3 linked regions of the Homo sapiens genome follow. The protein of the gene in region 3 interacts with the protein of the main gene of each other region in a pairwise test. Each region holds a gene or a part of one and is shown on either strand. Other genes may lie near its edges.

Region 1 (7,355 bases), on a different chromosome or scaffold from region 3:
GGGGGCTGGTGTGTCAGCAGTGCCCTGAGCGTGTGCACACCTGGCTGGGCTGCGACAGCGACCGGGCTCTGCCTGACTTTGCTCCTGGATCGGAGCAGGCGCCGACAGCAGGGAGAAGCCAGGCAGTGGGAGCAGGCATTTCCAAGCCTGTAAGAGCAGTGGGGGCCTTCCCAGACCCCCAAGAATGCAGGAATGCCTGGGTCCGCAGCCACGGTTTGGGCAGCTGCAGCTGTGTGGAGAAGGCAGGGCTCCTGCCTGCTCCGTGGAGCGGGAGACCCAGGTCTGCAGCCGCGGGTTTGAGCTGCTGCAGCTGCGCCTGGGCAGTTGGGGCTCTCGCCTGTTCCCACTGGGAGAGCACAGGGATGCCAGGGACTACAGCCATGGCTTGGGCGATTGCAGCGGCACCAACGGAGCTCCAGCGCCAACTCGGAAGGGGCAGGACTCCCACCTGTCTTCAGCTCCCACCCGCTCCATAGAGTGTGTAGCCTCAGCCGTGCCTCCCTGCTGCAGCCGCTCCAGAGAGCCTGCCGCTGCCATCATCACTATGTTGACCAGGCTGGTTTTGAATTCCTGGCCTCCAGCGGTCCTCCCACCTGGGCCTCCCAAAGTGCTGGGATTACAGGCATGAGTCACTCTGCAGGCCTTGAATTTATCTTGATCTTAAAAACAAACATATCCAAAATAAAGTTCTAATATACTAACATGGACAAAGATATTATCTTACAATCTGATTTATAAAATTATCATTTAAATTTTAAAGTAATACAATCATAATAAAAAGGATTTGTTTAAAGTGTCTTCAAATGTAGAATTCCCAACACATACTTTACAATCCTAAGATCTGGCCCGGTGCAGCGTCTCACGTCTGTAATCTCAGCACTTTGGGAGGCCGAGACAGGTGGATCAGCTGAGGTCAGGAGTTCGACACCAGTCTGGCCAATGTGGCAAAACCTTGTCTCTACTAAAACTACAAAATGAGCCGGTTGTGATGCTGCATGCCTATAATCCCAGCTACTCAGTAGGCTGAGGCAGGAGAACCCCTTGAATCCGGGAGATGGAGGTTGCAGTGAGCCAAGATTGTGCCACTACACTCCAGCATGGGCAACAGAGCAAGGATCCGTTTAAAAAAAAAAAAAAATCCTAAGATCTTAAGTAAGTGCACACACACAAACTCCTTCATGCATGTATGCACACATGGGCTCTTACCATAATGTGAGACTTCACTTTTCCCTTCTGAATTATGAAAGTACCTCCCATTCCTATAGGCTTATTTCCATAATGTTTTTCCAGGGTCTCTCTCATACAAGTCACAAAGTTAAGTGGTCCAGTTCTTCTTTTGGCTTTCACCTCAATTACCTATAGAGGACATAAAGATGCATACCATTGACTATGCTGCAAAATAACTACTGAAATAAAACATTATATAATTTAATTCTATCAAGCAAATATTCTGTTCTTTGCTTAGAGCCCCCAGATCTGAGTTGAGATGTTGCAATCCCGTGAATTTTGATCAGTCATATATATATGTATGCACACACACACACACATACTTATCAGTTACATGTAATTTACTAGTAAGTCTTAAGCATGCTTTCTTGAACTGAGAAACTGAGAAAGACAAGTTTCTCAGTGCAGAGAGTCTAGAGACTCTTAACATACGTGTCGAGGCAGTCAAAGATTGAGAATTACCTTTGGTAATTCTTTGGTTAAAGGAATTAACCTTTGGTAAGTGGGGATGAGGAGAAAATGATTACATTTTCTCACTTCCCTTAAAATTCTGTATTATCTCCACAACTTGGACGTTAAGTATTTTCACTTCTCAATCTCTTATCTCAAAGTAGCTGAAGAGGCTATCTCTACTTCCAAAACTGGAGAGTCTTCACAAAAGCTAACACTGAAATCATATTTTTGTGTACTAATAGGAAGTAAATATCAAGTAAGGCATTAGTTTTCCTTACTTTGTTCTTGCTGTAAGTTTTTGCTACCACCATTTCTATCTAGAGCAATGTGTGATTCATCAGAAAGAAGCAAATAACCTATTTACTACCTGTAAGTAGGCATTATTTATTTTAGCTGTATGGTTCATGTAGATGACAAACTCACTCCCCAAATTAATATTCTATTACCTTTTAGTTCTCAGAAAAAGGTCTTGCTTACTAAGTAGTCTTTTTTTTTTTTTTTTAAGACAGGTCTTGCTGTCACCTAGGTAGGAGTGCAGTGGTGTGATCATAGCTCGTTGCGGCCTCAAACACCTGGGCACAAGGGATCCTCCTGCATCAGCCTCCTGAGTAGCTAGGACTATAGGCATGTACCACCACACCTGGCTAATTAAAAAAAAAAATTTTTTTTTTTTTTTTTTGACAGGGTCTTGCCATGTTGCCCAGGCTGGTCTGAAACTGCCAGCCTTAAGTGATCCTCCAGCTTTGGCCTCTCAAAGGACTGGAATTATAGGCATAAGCCATTGTGCCAGCCATACTATTCTTTTTTTTTTTTTTTTTTTTTTTGGAGACAGAGTCTTGCTTTGTTGCCCAGGCTGGAGTGCAATGGTGCAATCTTGGCTCACTGCAACCTCTGTCTCCCAGGTTCAAGCAATTCTCCTGCCTCAGCCTCCCAAGTAGCTGGGACTACAGGCATGTGCCACCTTCCCTGTCTAATTTTTGTATTTTTAGTAGAGACGAGGTTTCGCTATGTTGGCCAGACTGGTCTCAAATGCTTGACCTCAGGTGATCTACCCACCTTGGCCTCCCAAAATGCTTGGGAATACAGGCGTGAGCCACCGCGTCTGGCCTCCAGCCATATTATTCTTAACCTTAAAGATGACTTTTGCTCTGCCTGTCATACTCTCTGAACCTTTCATTACTGGGTTATTTAAAGAGCTTTGACTTAGGAAGCTCTAATTTTCTTTTTTTTTTTTTTTTTGAGACAGAGTCTCACTCAGTGGCCCAGACTGGAGGGTAGTAGCATGATCTTGGCTCACTGCAACCTCTGCCTTCCGAGTCTGAGCGATTCTCTCACCTCAGCCCCCCCGAGTAGCTGGGATTACAGGCACACACCACCACACCCTGCTAATTTTTGTATTTTTTGGTACAGATGGGGTTTCACCATGTTGACCAGGCTGGTCTTGAACTCCTGACCTCAAGTTGACCTCAAGTTATCCACCCAGCTTGGCCTCCCAAAGTGGGAAACTAATTTTCTTAGCAAAACCATATTTATGGCAGTAAAAGTTCACATTTTTAGCTTTCTGAGAACATTTAGGGAATATTGTATTTTTATGGACACAATCACCTTGCCAGGTTGGCCTTCACTGGCAAAAAGATTAGCCAGTAATGCACACTGAAAATCATGACATTTCTCACTGTATTTCTCCAGTAGGCACCCTCCATCTGCAGGGTTCACATGGGCAAAGTAACTTCCATTTACAGGAGGCTTGTGTTCACTTTCTGTCTGAATAACTGGCATAAACTGAAAAGAAAGTGAGGCAATTAGTCAATCTTTGTATCTCTGCAAAGAGAATATCTTGAATAATGTTACAAAACATTTAATCCTTTTAAGACATTTTAGTTCAAGTCCTAATAAGAGAACATAAAATACATAATATTTAATTTTAGACATAAAAAACTTGGAAAACATTTATAGGCCGGGCGCTGTGGCTCATGCCTGTAATCCCAGCACTTTGGGAGGCCAAGGGGGGCGGATCACGAGGTCAAGAGAAGAGATCAAGACCATCCTGGCCAACATGGTGAAAACCTGTCTCTACTAAAAATACAAAAATTAGCTGGGCGTGGTGGCACACACCTGTAGTCCCAGCTACTCAAGAGGCTGAGGCAAGAGAATTGCTTGAACCTGGGAGGTGGAGGTTGCAGTGAGCCAAGATCGCGCCACTGCACTCCAGCATGGCGACAGAGCGAGACTCCATCTCAAAAAAAAAAAAAAAAAAAAAAAAGATATTTATTGGATTTCTTACAGTGTATCTATAACTTGCGTTAAATATCTTATTTTAAATTTTTAACTTTTTTTCCTAACTTGAACACTAGGCAAATTGTACTAATGTTTCTGCAAAGAACTTGTATGACTACTATTCATATCTGAAGAGGTTATGAGAGAATGAGCAGACTGAAGTCTTGTATTCATGAGATTCAAAGAAACAGTAATATTTTCATATGGTAATAATATATACTAGTAATAACTATTAACTTTCATAAATAACCATCATACTATTGTGATAGTTTCCTACTATTTGGTGTGGAAGAAGGAGTTGACTAGATCACTAATATTCCATTCATCTTCTAATCCAAAGCTGCCTGCATACCCAAAGCAAAGATTTATAGATAAGCTCGGAATCCTGTAAGAATATAAATATTTTATAATCCAGAACCTTCAACAGAATACCATAGAACCCTGCATTTATCTAAGGCTGAAGCTATGACCTAAGAAAATCTAAAACTACAAGTTAGTACTCCATTACAGTTAGTCCAGTTGGAGTGTGTGCTATAGCAGAAATCTACATCAAGTAGTATCAAACCTGCAGAGAGATTTACAATTCACTCAGAAAGTAGGATTTTTGGCACTAAAAGCAAAAAGACAAACCAAATGTCAAACCAATAAAGTAAAATAATTTTCTTATATATGCTGACCTCAGAATTGAACCCGAGAGTCTGAAATGGACCTGCTCCTGCTCCAAGAATAAAGGCTCCAGGCAGCTTGATTTCTTTTGCAATTTTATTCAGATCATAAACCTATAGAAGAGGAAAAAATATTATTTAAGTCACAACTTGTACAAAGTCCCTGGTTTACCTTTTATTACTGATCCATTAGCACTTCCTTGCCAACTGATCAACAGGTCTTCTAATAATAAACACAGTAATCAACCCAACTTCTACAATCTTCATGTGAATATGCAGAGTAAAAGTACTTACTTTTTTTTGGTTTACAAGAGGCAATAAGTAAGGCACACCTCCAACTTCTGCAATTCTAGTTTTCCCACAGATGCCTAAGAAAAAACCAAAAAACAAAAACACAAGCCACCTTAAAAACAGGCAAACATCTAATTTAATAATAAAATGCCAACAGTATATAACTTCTCCATTATCATAAAGTTTTACAAATAACAGGGATTGGAAGACATAGTGGCTAGAACCCCTGTCCTATTTTAAGTACCTGTGTCTCTAATAATCATCATAACCAAGCATGGCTTATAAAGTTGGTGGCATAAAGGCAATACAAGGCAAGGGCAAGGGTTAGAACTGGGGCCAAAGTTTGGATTGGGTAAGGTTTCTAGAATGTCTTTGACGCCTTATTTCTTTAAAAAAAATCTATTTTGGGGTGGTTTTCCTTTTTTTGGCTAAAATTGTTTCTTGTTTTTTAATTTAAAATATTTTGCTCTGGTACAATGTAAATTCTCAGATGGTGGCTCACGCCTGCAATCCCAGCACTTTGGGAGGCTGAGGCGGGTGGATCACCTGAAGTCAGGAGTTCGAGACCAGCCTGGCCAACATGGTGAATCTCTACTAAAAATAGAAAAATTAGCTGGGCATGGTGGCGGGAGCCTATAATCCCAGCTACCAAGGAGGCTGGGGCAGGAGGATTGCTTGAACCCGGCGGGGGCAGAGGTTGCAGTGAGCCAAGATTGTGCTACTGTATTCCAGCCTGGGCAACAGAGCAAGACTCTGTCTCAAAAAACAAAACATCACGAGGTCAGGAGATCGCGACCATCCTGGCTAACACGGTGAAACCCCATCTTTACCAAAAATACAAAAAATTAGCCGGGCGTACTACTCAGGAGGCTGGGTGTACTACTCAGGAGGCTGAGGCAGGAGAATGGTGTGAACCTGGGAGGCAGAGCTGGCAGTGAGCCGAGATCGCGCCACTGCACTCCAGCCTGGGTGACAGAGCGAGACTCCGTCTCAAAAAAAAAAAAAAAAAAAACCCAGAGAGATCTAGGTGAGATGTACAAATTTCAAAGTTATATTCAGGTAGTAATTAAAACCATAAGAGTGGATTTAAAAAATACCCAGATAGATTACTAGAAATAAGAAGAGGCTAAGGAAAGAATTCTGGAAAAGATCAATATTTAAGAGACTATTAGAAAGAAAAAGGAACCAGGAAAATATGGAAGAAAAGAGGAAGGAAAGGCACAAAGGAAGAACAGGTGAAACAAGGATAGAGAAGATAGAACCTAGGGGAGAATGTCAGGCAGCAATGGCCAAGCAGTATGAAATACGTGGAGAGGTTAAATAGTACTAGTAAACATTTTAAGGTCACTGGTGATCTTAGCAAGACCAGTTCATGTAGAAAATGTCTAACACACCACTGCATCCAGCTAATTTTTGTACTTTTAGTAGAGATTGGGTTTCACCATGTTGGCCAGTTTGGTCTTAAACTCCTATGTTTATGAAAGATCATACATACACATATTAGATGCATATCTGGCTTCTAGTATTGCAATTTAAAGACTCACAAATTACTGACCAGAAAACACTTCTTCCAAGCATAACTCTGCATGACAAAATTAAGACTAACCATTTTGGCTGGGCATGATGGCTCACACCTGTAATCCCAGCACTTTGGGAGGCCGAGGCGGGCACATCACTTGAGACTGGGAGTTCGAGATCAGCCTGGCCAACATGATGAAACCCCGTCTCTACTAAAAATACAAAAATTAGCCAGGTGTCGTGGTGCACACCTGTAATCCTAGCTACTTGGGAGGGTGAGGTATGAGAATCGCCTGAACCCGGGAGGCAGAGATTGCAGTGAGCCAAGATTGTGCCACTGTACTCCACACTCCAGTCTGGGCGACAGAGCGAGATTCCATCTCACACACACACACACAAAAAAAAAAAAAAAAAAAAAAAGATTAACCATTTTTCCTTCTTTCTTGTACTCTTCTGTCTCCTGACCTTTATTTAATTTTAGTTAATTACTTAATTAGCAGGGGAAATACATTACACTCATATTTTTAAAAAAATCAAGGCTGGGCGTGGTGGCTCACGCCTGTAATCTCAGCACTTTGGAAGGCCGAGGTGGGCGGATCACGAGGTCAGGAGATCGAGACCATCCTGGCTAACACGGTGAAACCCTGTCTCTACTAAAAATACAAAAAATTAGCCAGGCGTGGTGGCACATGCCTGTAGTCTCAGCTACTCAGGAGGCTGAGGCTGGAGAATCGCTTGAACCTGGGAGGCAGAGGTTGCAGTGAGCTGAGATTGCGCCACTGAACTCCAGCCTGGTGACAGAGTGAGACTCTGTCTCAAAAAAAAAAAAAAAAAAAAAAAACTATAAAAAAGTACTATGCTAAATCCTTTGAAGAAGCTAAAAGAAATTGCCACATGGTACACAAGCCTTCTAGAATTTACAGC
Region 2 (8,081 bases), about 34 Mb from region 3:
TGATCATAATTTTCAAATCAAATTAAGATCAAACTCCACTGACCGTCAGGTACTGTATATTCTCATTTTGATAAATTTCAAATTAATGATAAAAATGTATTAACCTGCTGGTCAATTATACATTTTATAAATATATTTTAACCAATGACATATTATCAGTAAGTACAGATTCAACGGCAAGATTTCATTAAGAAAGTGTTTCAAGCTTCAGATGCCCAAGACTTATTTAATGTGTAAATCTTCACCACTACAATAACCACATGGTTAAACGATCACCACTTCCATTAGCAAGCTCAAGCCTAATAAGTGATCTCCTGGGACTTCAGCACAGAGGTTTTCTAATTTTATTCCTCCACTCAATGTGGCTATTCTCCCTTATCTATTCACGCTGGCAAAGCTTCTAGTTAAACTGGAATTAGTAACTATTTGATGATAATAATTAACATATACTGAGTGCTTCCGATGGCGCAGTTAATTCTTACAGTTGATAAAAGTGTGGCACAAAAAGGTTAATCAAGTAGCAGAGGCAGGATTTGAACCCAGGAATTCTGGTTCCAGGGCCCGGATTCGGAGTTACAAAGGTGAGTAAACTGAAAAGAGTCCTACTTTTATTGTCATTGCTTTCTAATAAAAATTATTTTTTTCTTCCAATTGTTTAAATCTCTTCTCATTCTCTATTTAAATATTAGGCGTTCATTTAAATATTAGGCGTCTACCTTACAGTAGGACATCTTTAAACAACGTAAAAAAGGAAAGCTTTGTCTTCACCTTCACACATACCGGTCTGCCCATAAATTTTGCAATCCAGTTCTGCCTGATTCTAAACTGCTTGTCTCTTGAAGCGAATGCCTTAAAAAGTGACACTGGGATCAGGATAGTTATCTCCATCCATCCTCCCTCAGAAAAACAACTATATTCGAGTAATTCTTGGGACCACTGAGAACAATACACAGACCTTTGGGTAACTTCAAGACAAAAAAGGCAAAAAGTCGGGGAGAAGGTGTGGGAGGATGATTTTCCCCTTCTAAACGTAAGGTATAAAAGGGCTCAGAAAGCGGAAAAAGAACCCTAAAAAGCAAGGTGCGGGACGGCGTGAGGGACCACACATTGGGCGCTCCGCCCAAGGGGTCCGGCTCCTTCTCCGCGGCGATGGCGCGTCCTTGGGCTCAGCAACCCTCCTGAAGACACCTAACCTCCTCCTTCTCCAGCCTGCCCCTCTGGGGCCTGCGAGCCCCGTCCCGGGCCGGGGGTCGGAAGCCGTGCCATGTAGGACCCCGAAAAGGCCCCCAAGCTTGGCGCGGAAGGCGCCGCCAGTGACCGGCTGCGGCTGGGGGCGGAGGCCGGCAGTTGCTCGGAGCTCCGGCGGGTCAGGAGGTGACGGGAGGAGGAGGAGGCAGGAGGAAGAAAGGGGGGTTGGGAGGTAGCGTCCGGTAGGTCTGCGCAGACAGCGCTGCCAGACCTCTGACTCCCCCAGTCCTGCCGCCGCCGATAGCCCCACAAGGCGACATGGGAAGTCCGCCGGAGCAGAGGGGAGAAAATTCAAAACGAGTCTACTCAACCTCGTCTTGGCTCCGAGGCCCCGCCATGCAGACCCCTCTAGTTTTTTACTATTAAAAATAGTGCTGCAACAAACATTTTATACATCTATCTCTGTATATATGTGTAAGTATACTGAAAATGAGTTCCCAGAATTAGAATGGACAAGTCAAAGGGCATACAGATCTTAATTTTGTTAAATTCCATCAAACTGTTTTCTATTATAGCCCCAAGAAGTTCCCCTTGACTGTTTCCTTACATCCTCATATTGTTTTATGAGTCCTAATAATTAAATATCCCTTTGTTGTGTGTTGCCCTTATATTTCCCATTGTATGTTTGATGTTGTTTTTCTCTTACTATATAAAAGTTTTAGATTGTTAGGTAGTGACATTTATCAATCTTTTTGCTTATGAGAGTTTCCAAATTTCCTGACATGCTTCGAAACACCTTCTCACAATGAAACATAAATACATAAATTCATCCATAAATGCATAAATGAGACAGATCTGTAAATATTGATAGAAAACAACTGGACACACAGTCTTAAGTGTAAAAGCCAATCACAGAAGAGTATGCACAATGTTACAGGTGTAACTACATATTTGCGTATGTCTAAAACACCTGTGGAAGGTGGCCTGGAGATGGGGAGAAATGGGTAGATGGAGGATTTTCACTCTTCATTCTTTTTACTATTCGAACTATTTTTTTATGTATTATCTATTCAAATGAAAATGTTTAAATCTTATTGTTTAAAAAGCAACCTCTATCATGTTTGCATACAAAAAAGTCTCCCTTTTCACCTACATTTCATTCCCTACCATTTAAAGCTTAACACATTTAGAATGTAGTATAATTAGTGAGGCAGGGATCCAGTATTGCCTTCTACCAAATAGATCTGTTGAATTTTTAGGTTTGTTAAGAGGCAAAGACCAAGGGTGGAGAGGAAGGAGTGAGAGTGCCAGGTGAGGAAAGTCTAAAATCTCTCGACTTAATATGAGAATGGTGGCCACGGAAGGCTAAGAGTCTCTAGTGCCAGGTGTGGGTTATACACACATCTTCTATGCAATTACCGTGACAAGCACCCAGGGTGTGAGGTGAGGTGTACCTCCTAGCTTGATGCTGCTGGTTCAAGTCCCAAATCAGAGAGGGGAAGCCAAAAAAGGAGCCGAGAAAGATGAGATGCTTCGCACGGTTTTTAAAGTAAAGTCGGAACATTCCTGACCGACTAGGCAGCCCCAGGCGCTCAGGTGGGAATCACTGCCCAGCACACAGAACCCAGAGTCCAGCGCGGCTGTCACCGGCTCTAGGCTGGATCTAAGCGTCGGACCAGGAGGCCGCAGTCAAAATCTGTTCTCCTACCTGTGTACGAAACCAAACTATTCTCGTCGAAGTGCTTTCCCAGGCTCCTAAGACGCAGCTTCCATACTCGCCGCGTTCTCAGCTGTTGGTCGTATCCTAGCAACGGCCCTGGCACCACCTCTTCCTGCCGGAGCACGGCAGGGGTGGGAAGGAGAGGAGCCAGAGGCGGGTGGGGGGGAGGAGCCAGAAGAGGGCAGCGGGGAGGGGCCGGGAAGGAGGAGCGCGGCAGGGTAGGGGGAGGAGCCAAAGACTGGGGGCGGGGCCGGGAAGGAGGAGGGCGGCAGAAGAGAAGGGGATGAGCCAGAGGCGGGGAGGTGGGGCCGGGAAGGAGGAGTGCGGCAGGAGAGAAGAGGAGTAGCCAGAGGCGGAGGGGCGGTGTCGGGAAGGAGGAGCGCGGCAGGAAATAAGGGAAGGAGCTAGAGGCGGGCTGGGGGCCGGGGTCTGGAAGGAGGATCGCGGTAGGGAAGAAGAGGAGCCAGAGGAGGGGGATGGGGGCTGCAAAGGAGGAACGCGATAGGGAAAAGGGGGAGGAGCCAGAGGCGAGGGGGCGGGGAGAAGAAACATGGCAGGAGAAAGGGGAGGAGCCAGAGGCGAAGAGACAGGAAGAGGGACGCGTCAGGGAGAAGGGGAGGAGTCAGAGGCGAGCGGGCGTGGAGGAGGGAAGCGGCAGGGAGAAGGGGCGGGGCCAGAGGCGAAGGGGCGGGGAGGAGGGACGCGGCAGGGAGAAGGGGAGGAGCCAGAGGCGGAGGCTGTTACCAACTGGCTACCTAGATCCAAGTGAATCAGGACACTAACTTCTCTCCAAGATCTTTTACACTTGTGAAACGGCACAGCTCTCTAAACCAAACACTGACAGCAGTTTAATTTTACAGATATAAAAAAAATCCGAGTCAGAGAAATCATCACGATGAAGTCAGAGGCGAGAAACTGTCAGGTGCCTACTTGCTTTTGTTAAACTAACAACTTGGCTCTCAGCTTCCTGGCAGCCAAAGAGAAAAGGGAGATAGTAGCTATCAAATAATTCTGCTTAGAAGAACTTTTGTTAATCACTAAATTAGTTAATAAACTAAATTTTGTCTAACAACAAATTCTTTTTTTTTTTTTTTTTTCTAGTGTATACAGAGTCTTGCTCTGTCGCCCAGGTTGAAGTGCAGTGGTTCGATCTCGGCTCAATGCAACCTCTACCTCCCTGGCTCCCGCGATTCTCCTGCCTCAGCCTCCTGAGTAGCTGAGATTACAGGCGCCCGCCACCACCCCCGGCTAATTTTGGTATTTTTAGTAGAGATGGGGTTTCACCATGTTGGCCAGGCTGATCTGGAACTCCTAGCCTCAAGCAATCCGCCTTCAAAAGTGTTGGGGATTACAGGAGTGAGCCACCGCGCCCGGCCTATCAATGAATAAGAAAACTTTTAAAGAACCACAGGATAGTATTGGAGGTCAAGTCAAGTATGTTCCTCTTGGAAATTTAGTAACAAACTACATGTTGCTATCTCATAATAGCAGCTAACATTTATGAAGTATTCATTGTCATGAGGCACCGTACATAGATTTCTAATTTAATCCTTACAACGATTTTATTAGGGAGAAACTGCTATTAGACCCATTTTGTAAATGAGAAAACTAAGGCACACAAAGTTTAATGAGGGAACCAGGATTAAACCTAAGCAATCTAACTCCAGGTCCCAGATTTTTTAACCATTACAGTACTGTTTAATTTGATTTGATATGTTAAAAGGATTAATAAAATTAATACAGGTCCATTCCCTTATTCATAAATGTTCATTGTCTTCATTTATTTCTTTATACTGTTCTGCTGAAATTGCACTCTCATCTCCCCAATAACTTTGTAATATCCAATGCCATTTTTTTCAGTCATCCCATTTTAAAATATATTTTTACTAGAATAGTGAAATATATATTCAGATAAAATTGGCTTTGTTTTAATAATGATCAGTAAAAGTAAATTCATTTTAATCATTTCCACACATTCATGAAAAGTAAAGGGGAAAAATGGGCATAGAGGTAACCACTAGAATTAGGCTTTCTTGGATGGGTAGACCAGGTGTGGAGGTGTGCAGATAAGATTTTACAAACACTCATACACTCCCATCTCCAAAATCATAATTTATCTTACATTCTGCTACTAATAAACATTCCACTGGTTTTAAACATTCACTTTGCTGGGTCTCCTCTTTAAAATTTGTCATTCACTGTTCTCAATGTTAGAGACGGTATGCAAACAGTAGGTTTAGGAATAGAGTCAGGAGATGGGGGAAGAAAAACTGGTAGGAGAGAACTTAAGTGTCTCACAGTGTTAAATGTGACTTGATAGCCACTATTCATTTTTTTTTGTAGTTTGCTGTGAGGATGACTTTATACAATTTAATCTTAAATAGGAACCTAACTTAGTTAGGCTTCCTTGGGTAGTCTGTGGAGCATGGAAAAGTTATTAGCATGTCAAAATCCTGTCCACGCACACATACACGCACATACACACAAATGTAGTTTGGTTACATAATAAATTTATATTCAAACTTAATGAAAACAACCAATAGGAAAAAGCTTCTCAATTCCAAAAGTGAAAGAGTAATTTTACAATACCATTTTCCATTTTCCTTTTCATGATAAATCTATGCATTTTCTCAGGATTTATTCCACCAAACGACTTCGTATTTCTCATGAAACATCTACCTTTATTCATCTCAGCATTTATTTATGTAATAAACATTTCTTTTGATGTGCTTTTATTTTTACAAAGATGCCACCTAGTGGCTTGATAAAATCAAGCATTTCAAAGTATCTCCTGTTGTTACTACAGGTTAAAATGAATAATGAATATTTTTAATATTAAAATAATTTAGAAAACTAAGGACCTGAAAATTTTTGTTTTGGAAATTATTTAGATTAAATTTGGATCATAATACCACTTTGTGAACTTGTTAAGAGAATGGAAATATAGGTCTATTGTCCCTTTTCTGAAACCTTTTAAGACAGATGTGTTTGATATTCACAATTTTTCAGATTTTTGAAAGGAAATATGGGCATATACTTTACATTATGTAACACATTAAGAGGGTCTGAGGAAGCAGTTTAGAATCAAATATATTGATACATCTGTGGCAAAATATATTCATATTCACATTGAAGTGCGATAAATACCACAAATAGCCTCATGTAATTCAGGTGGGGTTTGTTGCCAAATGAGTTATGAAAAAACTTTGTTTTCAGAGATTTTTGAAATTAGGAATTTAGATAAGGGACTTTGGACCTGTTTTACTCTGGTGAAAAATAATTCACCCTCCAGTTATAGAGAGATTAAAATGCCAATATTTTGTAAAAAAAAAAAAATAGTTATCTTTAGAAAACCTAATAGATTCACCTAAAAAAAAATTGAAGATCATGAGAAATACCAAAATAGAAATCTTTGCAATGCTTTTCATTTAATTATATACAGATGCCAATCATAAATTACATTTAAGTGTACCACAAAAAATTAGCTGCTAATGTAAACCTAAAGACCAATTTGAAAATTATTAGTGATGCATGGCAAGTTCAATTCATAAATTTTGTGGCACAGTCAAAAAAAAATTTAACCTTGGTTGTTTCTTTTTTTTTATTCCTATGTGTAATTTACCATGTTCCAATTCCCCACCACCACTATGGTCATGGAAATATATGTTGATGGTGCCACACTCAGCCTGGATTCCTTGTGGGTCTATGAGCACTCCTTGCCAACCCTCCTTAGACATGCAGTATGAATAAAAAATACACTTAAGACACTGGGATTTAAGGATAACCCATGCTAAGTCACTACATGACTCACTATTTTACTTCACGATCTAGAATACTGACTCATCTCTAGTCTCTCAAATGAATTCTTCCTGTCCCCATCAATCATTCAAACCCCTTATCACATTCCCACTGTGATTTCCTGTGAATTTTGTCTAAAATAAAACGTCGACCTCCTCTAAACACAACTGGTAGCCTCTCATTTACTTTTCTCTAAAACAATTGGCATTACTATTGTTGTAGCATAGGCTACAATCTCACTGAACACTTAGTTTTTGTTTTTGTTTTTAGTAGAGACGGGGTTTCACCATATTGGCCAGGCTGGCCTCGAACTTTTGACCTCAAGTGATCCACCCACCTCGGCCTCCCAAAGTAGTGGGATTATAGGTGTGAGCCACCACGCCTCCCTACTGAACACTTAGTTTTAATGGGAAGACTGCACTCAGCAAATCCAAAATACTAGTGATATGTTCAGCAATTTGGTACTTAATCCCATACCCCACAATACACTTGTGTAGGGTGTTAGACTTCTGTATGTTTACATAATCATAGAGGATGGGAGGAAAAAGAAAAAGCTGCTATTAGCCTACATGTGGGAATTTTCCTATATATTGTCATCTCCCTTTTAAAAAAGATACATTCATAAACATTGTTATTGGCTTAATTAGCTTCGCTCCTCTGAATGTGATTAGAAAATTGACAATAAAATATAAGCTCTCTTTTCTTCCATCCCCCAATTCTGAGGGAAAAGGAGGGGGAGGGGAGAATGAGGGAGAGTGAAAGGATACAATAAAACTTGAGGCCTGATTGCACATGATGACTACTACTGCTGGCATCAATTCATTCTATTCCAATGACAGACTAGTTGATCCTACTGGTGTGGGAAAGATGGCAACCTTGAGACCTGAGCCTTACTCCAGTAGGGTGCCCCCCTATATCTTGTTTGCCCAGGACAGTCATGGTGTACATCTGTTATCCTTATGTAATTATTTTCACTCAAAATCATTCCAAGTGGAATGATAAATTATCCTATAGTTATCCTAAATATAAGCCATTTTCATCCCAAAGGAAAGAATGCCAAGAAATTGGAATCGTCTGCACTAAGTCCCAGTGTGGGAGAAAGGGGGCATCAACTTTGTTGCCATTTCTTCTTTCTTAGCAAAGCTCAAATTGATTAGCTTCTCTTTCTTTTGAAGTATCTGCAGTATGATGATTAACTAGAATGAAACCCATGGGAGAACTGAAATAGGCCATTCTGAAAATTATTAAAATTAGTTTAGTAGCCACTCAAAACACTGAAGATCTCTGAATAAAAGAATCATTTGCAAAGTGATCAGGAGACTTAACCTGGATGTTTATAGGAAGCAACTGGGAAAAGACTGAAGGAGTAAAAACG
Region 3 (7,711 bases):
AATTTCAACACTGCTGCCAATCAATAACAGAGATAATATGCCAATTATTTATTACCGTTGAATCCTCTGCAAATAAAAATGTTTCTAATTCATTCTATAGTGCTTAAAACAAGATCAGTATTCCCGGAAAGAAATGATATCTAGAAGGTAATCAAGACAGGATAAGCAGGCATTTTTCAAGCTCTAATTAATAAACAGAAATTAAAATTGATTGGAAAGACAATCACCCCACAGTGTTCCTCAAGCGTTTCCACATTGTAAGGAACATTTACTTCAGCACACTAGGTGCACAGGTAAGTTTAGCAAATGGTGACACTAACTCTACCCACTTCTAAAATCTACTCATTGAAGGACTTCCAAGAGGAAGAATGACAAGTCGCCCATGATGCCACTATTGATTGACATCTTTCAGATTATTTAAAACCCCGAGTTTCCAAAATCAAGCCTGGAATCTTTGGAATCTAAAAAGCTTAAATTTTATAAAGGATAGAAATATAAGGAATAATCCATCACTCAAATCAAACCAACGGGGTGGGGAGCTACAAGGAATAGGAAAACAGGAGATGACAAAAATACAGATTATTGAGCCCTCCAGACAAAAGGATGCCAAACAGGGATTAAAAAACTACACTTTGGGTACAACATACACTGCTTGGGTGACAGCAGCACTAACATCTCAGAATTCACTATATAATGCATCTACGTCACCAAAAACCACTTACCCCCCCCCCAAAAGCTATTGAAGTATTTTTAAAAATTAAAGACTTTAAAAATAAAACTTAAAAAAGAATCTCAAACAGGGAAGTTGAGCACAAACCAAACACAGCAGACAGCACACCCCAGAATGGATGGGACCACATGGGGCTGTGCACAACCAGATACGTGCCGTTAAGGAGCGTTCAGCTTCCTATTTTCAGAGGCGCTCAACACTACAGCAAGTAAAGAGACTGTTGAATTTACCAAAAACTGTAATTTAAATCAAATGCTATTATTCTTCCAAGCCATCACTTACTTGAGTGATGGTATCAATGCTCACAGCCATTTCCTAACTTTTCAAAGGTACTCTCATGCACCCTTAGACTGAATTCTCTAGGAATAAACTTAACGGGGTTTAAAAATGAAAGGTGTAAGATTTGACAGCAACAAATAGGCTTTCTATTCTATTAGTAACTTAATAAAATTACACTTCTATCAATGGAAGAACAGAATAAAAGTAATTTTCTCAGCCAGGCGCAGTGGCTCACGCCTGTAATCCCAGCACTTTGGGAGGCCAAGGTGGATGGATCACTTGAAGTCAAGAGTTCCAGACCAGCCCTGACAACATGGTGAAATCCCATCTCTACTAAAAATACAAAAATTAGCTGAGTGTGGTGGTGGGTGCCTGTAATCCCAGCTACTCAGGAGGCTGAGGCAGGAGAACTGCTTGAACCCGGGAGGCAGAGGTTACAATGAGCCAAGATCACACCACTGCACTCCAGCCTGGATGACAGAGCAAGACTCCGTCTCAAAAAAACAAACAAACAAACAAACAAACAAAACAGTAGTTTTCCCAAGTACAAATGAATGCTCCCTCCTCCTCAAAAAAAAATTTTCACAAGAAAGATTCCTTAGGAGTCAAACATATTTTACCTGTAACACCATGTTGAGTAAACTGTTCACAGCTAGAGTTGCATGAAACACTCCACAAAGTCTAGAACAACCAAATGTGTTCTAAAATTGTGTAGTACCAACGCTATAGCAAAATGCTTCCTAGTTTAAGAATTACAGGTAAAGACTTTTCATTTTCCTGGTATTTCTGGACATCCCTGGATGTCTCAAGGCTGCTGCACTGACTCATCCCACCCACTAATGAAAAATATAAAACGCCTTAGTCCAAGTATCTACTTGAATTTATTTAGTAACAAAAAACCACCCGTCCTGATGGCATAAACAAAAGCGCGCTCTATGATCGCACAATGCTAGTTGTGAGTGGGATTTCCAACACTAGAGGGCGCTGTCCCGCTTTCCCGCACGTGCCATGGCTGCATACCTACCTTATCCAGAGACAGGAAGTGCCGCGTGCTGGGTTATTTCCGACACAACAGACAAGCACATCACTCGTTGTTCTTCTTGTACTTCAACTGTCCCCAATTACTTAACTGTTGCTATGCTTTTTTGAGCTCCTATGAAATTCCTTAAAATATTTTTTACTTATTTTCAGTAACAGCACGTGAGGTTGCTTAAGGGCTCTGGCGTATCCCGAGCAATCTCTATGCCCTCCTGCAAAGCCAGCACGGATGGAACACGCTACGCTGTTTGTCAGGGAACCGCCTGTCCTTCTAGCGGTTTTCACGCTGTTTAGTTCCAAAACAGTTTCAAATTCAGTCAAAGTCTAGTTCAATATTCACTACAGCTAGGATTCTAGTTACCAATGGTAATCATGAAAGATATTACAAACTGAGAAACAAAAGACCTTGACTGTCCCAAAGTGATTTTTTTTTTTTTTTGAGATGAAGGCTTGCTCTGTCTCCCAGGCTGGAGTGCAATGGCACGATCTCAGCTCACTGCAACGTCCACCTCCCGGGTTCAAGCAATTCTTCTGCCTCAGCCTCCAGAGTAGCTGGGATTACAGGCGCCTGCCACCACACCCAGCTAATTTTTCTATTTTTAGTAGAGACAGGGGTTTCACCATCTTGGTCAGGCTGGTCTCAAACTCCTGACCTCAGGTGATCCACCCGCCTCAGCCTCCCAAAGTGCTGGGATTACAGGCGTTGAGCTACCGCGCCCGGATCCGTAAGTGATCTTACATCAAACTAGAACATACTTTAAGAGTGAAAAATTATACAATGGTTTCTTCCCTCTCCTGTAGAAATGTTACCATAATTAAATGTTTGATCAATTGCTAAATCACAACTTACAATATGAAAATCTTCATATACTTCAAATATACTGAAGAAAATGTCTACATGTAACTGAGGTGCGGCATCCACCTGAATGAACAGCACGAAACGCTATTAAAGTGACACTAGAAGCCCAGGCACAAATCATACACAGACACAAAAAAGCTCCAGATCCCACTCAGGAAGAATGCACCAACACATTCGCATTTATTTTCTTTTTTTTTTTTTTTAAAGCAAATGACAAAGACCCAGTTTACCAGCTTTACTTTTTTAAACCTAAGCTTAACATTACATATTTAAACAATTGTCAAAACTTACTAAGTTGCCAGCATTCATGCACAACTAGAAAACATCCTTAATTTATATTAAACCAGAAATGTATTACCATTAATGTATTAATATCTTTCACTACTAAATACTGAAAAAAATTGAAATTATTTCTGTAGAAGAATCGTCCTGGCAATGTTAACTTCACAGCAGGCCGACACTACGTGGCTCACATTTCAGACACAATGAAAAGCAGGTCCATGCTGGTGTTAGTGTACAATCTTGTCCTACACTAAAGAGTCAAGACTCACCTTGGAGTACGTTTAATAAAAAAGCAAAGTGCATACAGAGATTTACAACAATTTTAAAGACAAAAAAAAAATGGTCCTATTATGTGGTCCCAACAATCAACTCAAAAGTCTATGACAAATAGAGGCTCCGATGAGCTGTTTATAAATACTTTAGGTACAATTATACTGAAAGTCGAGTTCGTTTGAAATCTTCAAAAAAATGTTCCTGTTAATCCTCAAATGGTGCTTGTTATAGTTTAACATTTCTGTTAAGTGCGTGCGTTGAATTACTTGTTATCCAAGCGCAGCAGCTGCTCCTTACCATTTATTGTTAAGGACTTTAACTGGCCATCTTCTTCAACTTCTACTCTTTCTTGACCGTTCTCGACAATTCTGTAGGAAAAAAATTCATTTAAAAACCTTTCTGGTAAAGAAAATGCATGTGTGAGGGTAACTAAGTTGTTTAAGGACATTACTGAAATACACCATGAATATAAGTAATTTTCAGGCTGTAAAAACATGGCTGAAGCCAACCTGTCAACAACACATCTTCCTTTCCTAAAATAGAATTAACCTGACAAAATAAATTGTGTCTCAAATACCGTACAGGCGGATGCTAAATACATGCAGAGGCTATAAAACAGTAAAGGCTTTACTATTAATGATTTTCCATTTTACCATTTTAACAATGCTGCAGAAACTTATTACACTGTATTACATTAAAGATTCCCTCTAATAATTCAACAGTTAAGTAAAATTTAAGAGAAAAGGCTTTAATTAATGAATTTGGAGAGCAAAAGATTTTCATGGCGCCAGATTTAGCATACAACAACCTCTACTTCACACTCTGGGAGACGTGCAACATGGCACCAGTGAAACGTTACGCCTGCTTACTAAAAATATAAAATGCAGAATACCACAGTACCTCTTTGTAGTGATTTTTCTGCCATTAACCATTTTAGTTGAAGTTGATATCGATTTGAAGTTGCCCATGCCACTACCACCAAATGACGTGGAAGAGAATGAAGTGAGGCCCCCGTGACCTAGTGACCCAAATGAAGTAAATCCTACAGGAAAACAGAAAAGAAAAATGCTTAAAGAAATATGTCAACTAGTAATGCAAAGACAAGAGTTTGAAAGTTCAGTAGCAGAATATTTAATGTTAAGGCATAGAACCGAGGAGTAATAAACGACGCAACTATCAAGGCCTCAGCTGAAGTGCTGGGGTGCCCAGGGGGAAAGACTGTCTCTCAGATCCCTGAGTGGGGACTCTAGGGCAACGCGAGAGTGCAGCCTCTCCCCTCCCCCTCTCCTCATGCAGAGCTTCGCGGGACCCAAGCAGCTTTTCTGACATGCCAAAGACAGCCCCTGCTTGTGGGTGGTCTGCTTGGCACCATGAAGCACGTGTTGTGTTAATGTGAACATTCTGGAACCGAGACCAGTATTAAGCTCCAACCAGCAGAGCAGCCTCGGTATCAAGCTCTGTTTGCTTTGGCGTGGCTTGTAAACTCCACAGACTGTGATGGACACTCTTACCCCACAGGAACAGAGTGACCTCACCACCACAGAACAGCAAACCTAATCGGCTTCCCTCCTCTTTGCCACAGGACCACAGGGGATAAGAATCTAAATTATTAAAAAACTAAAATAATTGCAGAAAGAATACAAGTATTCGTCTCAAAAAACTATGGTTCTACAGTTCATGAACACCATTCTCAATTATACATTATGGATATTATCGCAGTGTGGACACTAAAAACTTTCACAAGTCACACTAAAGCAAACCTATTTTTCGATATTAAAGCTGGTCTACTGGTTAGAGCTTTTGTCCTGTTTCCAAAATGCTCCCATTAACACAAATGACGCATACCTCTGAACATGATTCAATCATCTAAGCGCAGATACTGTCTAGGGCTGGTGGTGTCCTGAAGAAATATGTGAACCAGGTATGTTAAGTTTACCTTTTCTAATGATTTCACTAAAAAGCAGAAACTAGTGACATTAATTTTAGTATTTTATTTAATACAGTATATCCAAAATATTTCAATTGGAAATACAAAAAATCAAAATCATTTGCGGTATTTTACACTGCTTCCCATGTTCCATCTTTGAAACCCAATGACTATTTCACACTCCTGCTGATCTCCGTTAGGAGTAGCCAGGCCTCCAGGGCTCAGGAGCTACACGTGGCTGGTGGCTACTGCACTGGTCTCAATTAAGCCTCGCTAAGTATTTATTCTTGTGATACTTTGTAAGGCACCTCAGAAGTGGAGAAGGCTTACACCCCCACCACACACACACACACACACACACACACACACAAACACACATACAGGAGCCACTGATTACTTTTAAAAAGGACAATTTACGTGGTATTTTTAACTAGCTTTCTTAACCTGTGGTCAGCATATTCCATGGTATCAAATGAGAGGATCTGTTGAGGGAAAGCACATCAAAACTGAGGTCCAATCGAGCAGAATTCACTACTTACCTAGATGGCATGAGCGCAATGTTCAAAGAAAATAAAATTCTGACCATGATGAAGAAGGAACCCTATATAACAAGCTCTCCCAATTCTTATCGTGGAGGCTTAAAAATAAAAATGAGAGAATCAAAACAGCAGCTCCAGGCCAGGAGTGGTGGCTCATGCCTGTAATCCTAGCACTTTGGGAGGCCAAGACGGGTGGATCCACCCGAGGTCAGTTCAACACCAGCCTGGCCAACACGACAAAAACCCTGTCTCCATTAAAAATACAAAAATTAGCTGGGCCTGCTGGTGCACACCTGTGATCCCAGCTACTCAGGAGGCTGAGGCACAAGAATCACTTCAACCCAGGAGGCGGGAGGCTGCAGTGAGCTGAGACCGTGCCACTACACTAAGAGTGGCACTCACTAAAGTGAGACTCTTTTTAAATTTAAAAACAAAACACAACAAAAAAAAAAGCTCCTTTGTGAAGAGAAACTGGATGAGCTTCAGAGAAAAGTGGGATTCTTCAGGCTAAACACACAGGCATATCATGATATATGCATATTCATGTTACTCCAGTCTACAAGCTTGTTTCCATCGGTGAACTATGAAGAGCTACGTGCGTGAGGCTGACACTTCACTAGTGAGTGAGCCTGGCCTGGGCTAGTGGTAAGGCCCAGCCTTCGATTCCATCCAGTGGGATGCTCCTAGGATGCTATTTGTGCACTTTTGTTTTAACTACAAAGGAGGTTAGACAGCATGAAGGTTAGTGAGATTTTCCAACTGCGTTACTTTCCACCTACTGATGCAGAACATATGTTGCCCCTTTTTAACTAAGAATTTCATTACATTCTGGCCTTGATTATTATATTAAGAGGAGAAGATTTCCAAGCACGACATTCTTAGGAAGATTAGGAGAAAATGTAGGTTAAGCGCAGACCTGTATACCAAAAAAAGCTGGCAAATCCACAATGCTATTCTACGAAAGGTATACACATATTTTAAAGCACTCTAACTAAAAGAGTATTATGATTTTATAAGTACTAACTGCTGTTAAGATAACAGAGATTAAACCTAGGGATTTAATACCTGTATCAAAAGAAGAAAATCCACTTCCAAAAGACGGAAATCCACTGAACGCAGAGAAAAACGACCCCGTCCCTCGGCTTCTGCTTCCTCGGGGACCCCTTCGATTCCCAAAGAAGTCCTCAAAAGGGTCTTCTAAAATCAAACATAAACACACACTATGAAGTCTTTTTTTCAAGTTTTTTTCCTCATGTGATAGCTACAGTAAGAGAAAATAGATGTTTGTAACATATTCAGGAACAAAAAACTTAAGAGGTTTTAACAAAAGAGCTTATCTACAGAGTAACTGAAACACTACCTCACCAACAGTTTTACTAACTAGTTTAATTCAACTAAAACTACAATACATTGTATCAAATAAATTACCAGACTTAATTAAAAAAACAGCACATACACACATTCTTTATGGAGGACCAATATGCACTTCAAACTCAGCTCTTTTCACGTCACTGATGTGAGGTCAAGACGCTGTTCCTGCTACGACCACTGGAAAAGTGAGAAAAGCTTCACACGGCAGCTGTTGTATTCCTTGGAGTCTGAGTTGCCTTCTCCAAAGCAATTCAGAAACAAACAGAAAAATGGATTACCCTAACATGCGCGCGCCCACACACACACACACACACACACACACACACGAGGAATGGTGTGGCCATGTAAGCTAAGTGTAAATACCTGATGAATCTCGGCAAAGGAAATTCCTTTTATTCTAAGTTTGATGTCTC

What was found.
Region 1: the proteins of DNAJB6 (region 3) and C11orf54 interact in binary tests that used the Homo sapiens proteins (3 or more experiments, as listed by UniProt).
Region 2: the proteins of DNAJB6 (region 3) and IQUB interact in binary tests that used the Homo sapiens proteins (3 or more experiments, as listed by UniProt).

Annotation. Positions count from the first base shown.
Region 1 is NC_000011.10:93,751,317-93,758,671, reverse strand, and holds part of C11orf54 (ester hydrolase C11orf54), read right to left. Parts: intron 4,991-7,355; coding exon 4,917-4,990; exon of another isoform or gene 4,913-4,916; intron 4,737-4,912; coding exon 4,635-4,736; intron 3,463-4,634; coding exon 3,286-3,462; intron 1,357-3,285; coding exon 1,207-1,356; intron 1-1,206. UniProt on the Homo sapiens protein: Exhibits ester hydrolase activity on the substrate p-nitrophenyl acetate, in vitro. Regulates DNA damage and repair by regulating HIF1A degradation via chaperone-mediated autophagy (CMA).
Region 2 is NC_000007.14:123,531,596-123,539,676, forward strand, and holds the start of IQUB (IQ motif and ubiquitin-like domain-containing protein), read right to left. Parts: upstream 3,001-8,081; 5' UTR 2,897-3,000; intron 1,599-2,896; exon of another isoform or gene 769-1,598; intron 1-768. UniProt on the Homo sapiens protein: Adapter protein that anchors the radial spoke 1 (RS1) complex to the A microtubule of outer doublet microtubules in axonemes. The triple radial spokes (RS1, RS2 and RS3) are required to modulate beating of the sperm flagellum.
Region 3 is NC_000007.14:157,381,659-157,389,369, reverse strand, and holds part of DNAJB6 (dnaJ homolog subfamily B member 6), read right to left. Parts: intron 7,125-7,711; coding exon 6,993-7,124; intron 4,504-6,992; coding exon 4,362-4,503; intron 3,830-4,361; coding exon 3,759-3,829; coding exon of another isoform or gene 3,724-3,758; exon of another isoform or gene 3,046-3,723; intron 1-3,045. UniProt on the Homo sapiens protein: Has a stimulatory effect on the ATPase activity of HSP70 in a dose-dependent and time-dependent manner and hence acts as a co-chaperone of HSP70. Plays an indispensable role in the organization of KRT8/KRT18 filaments.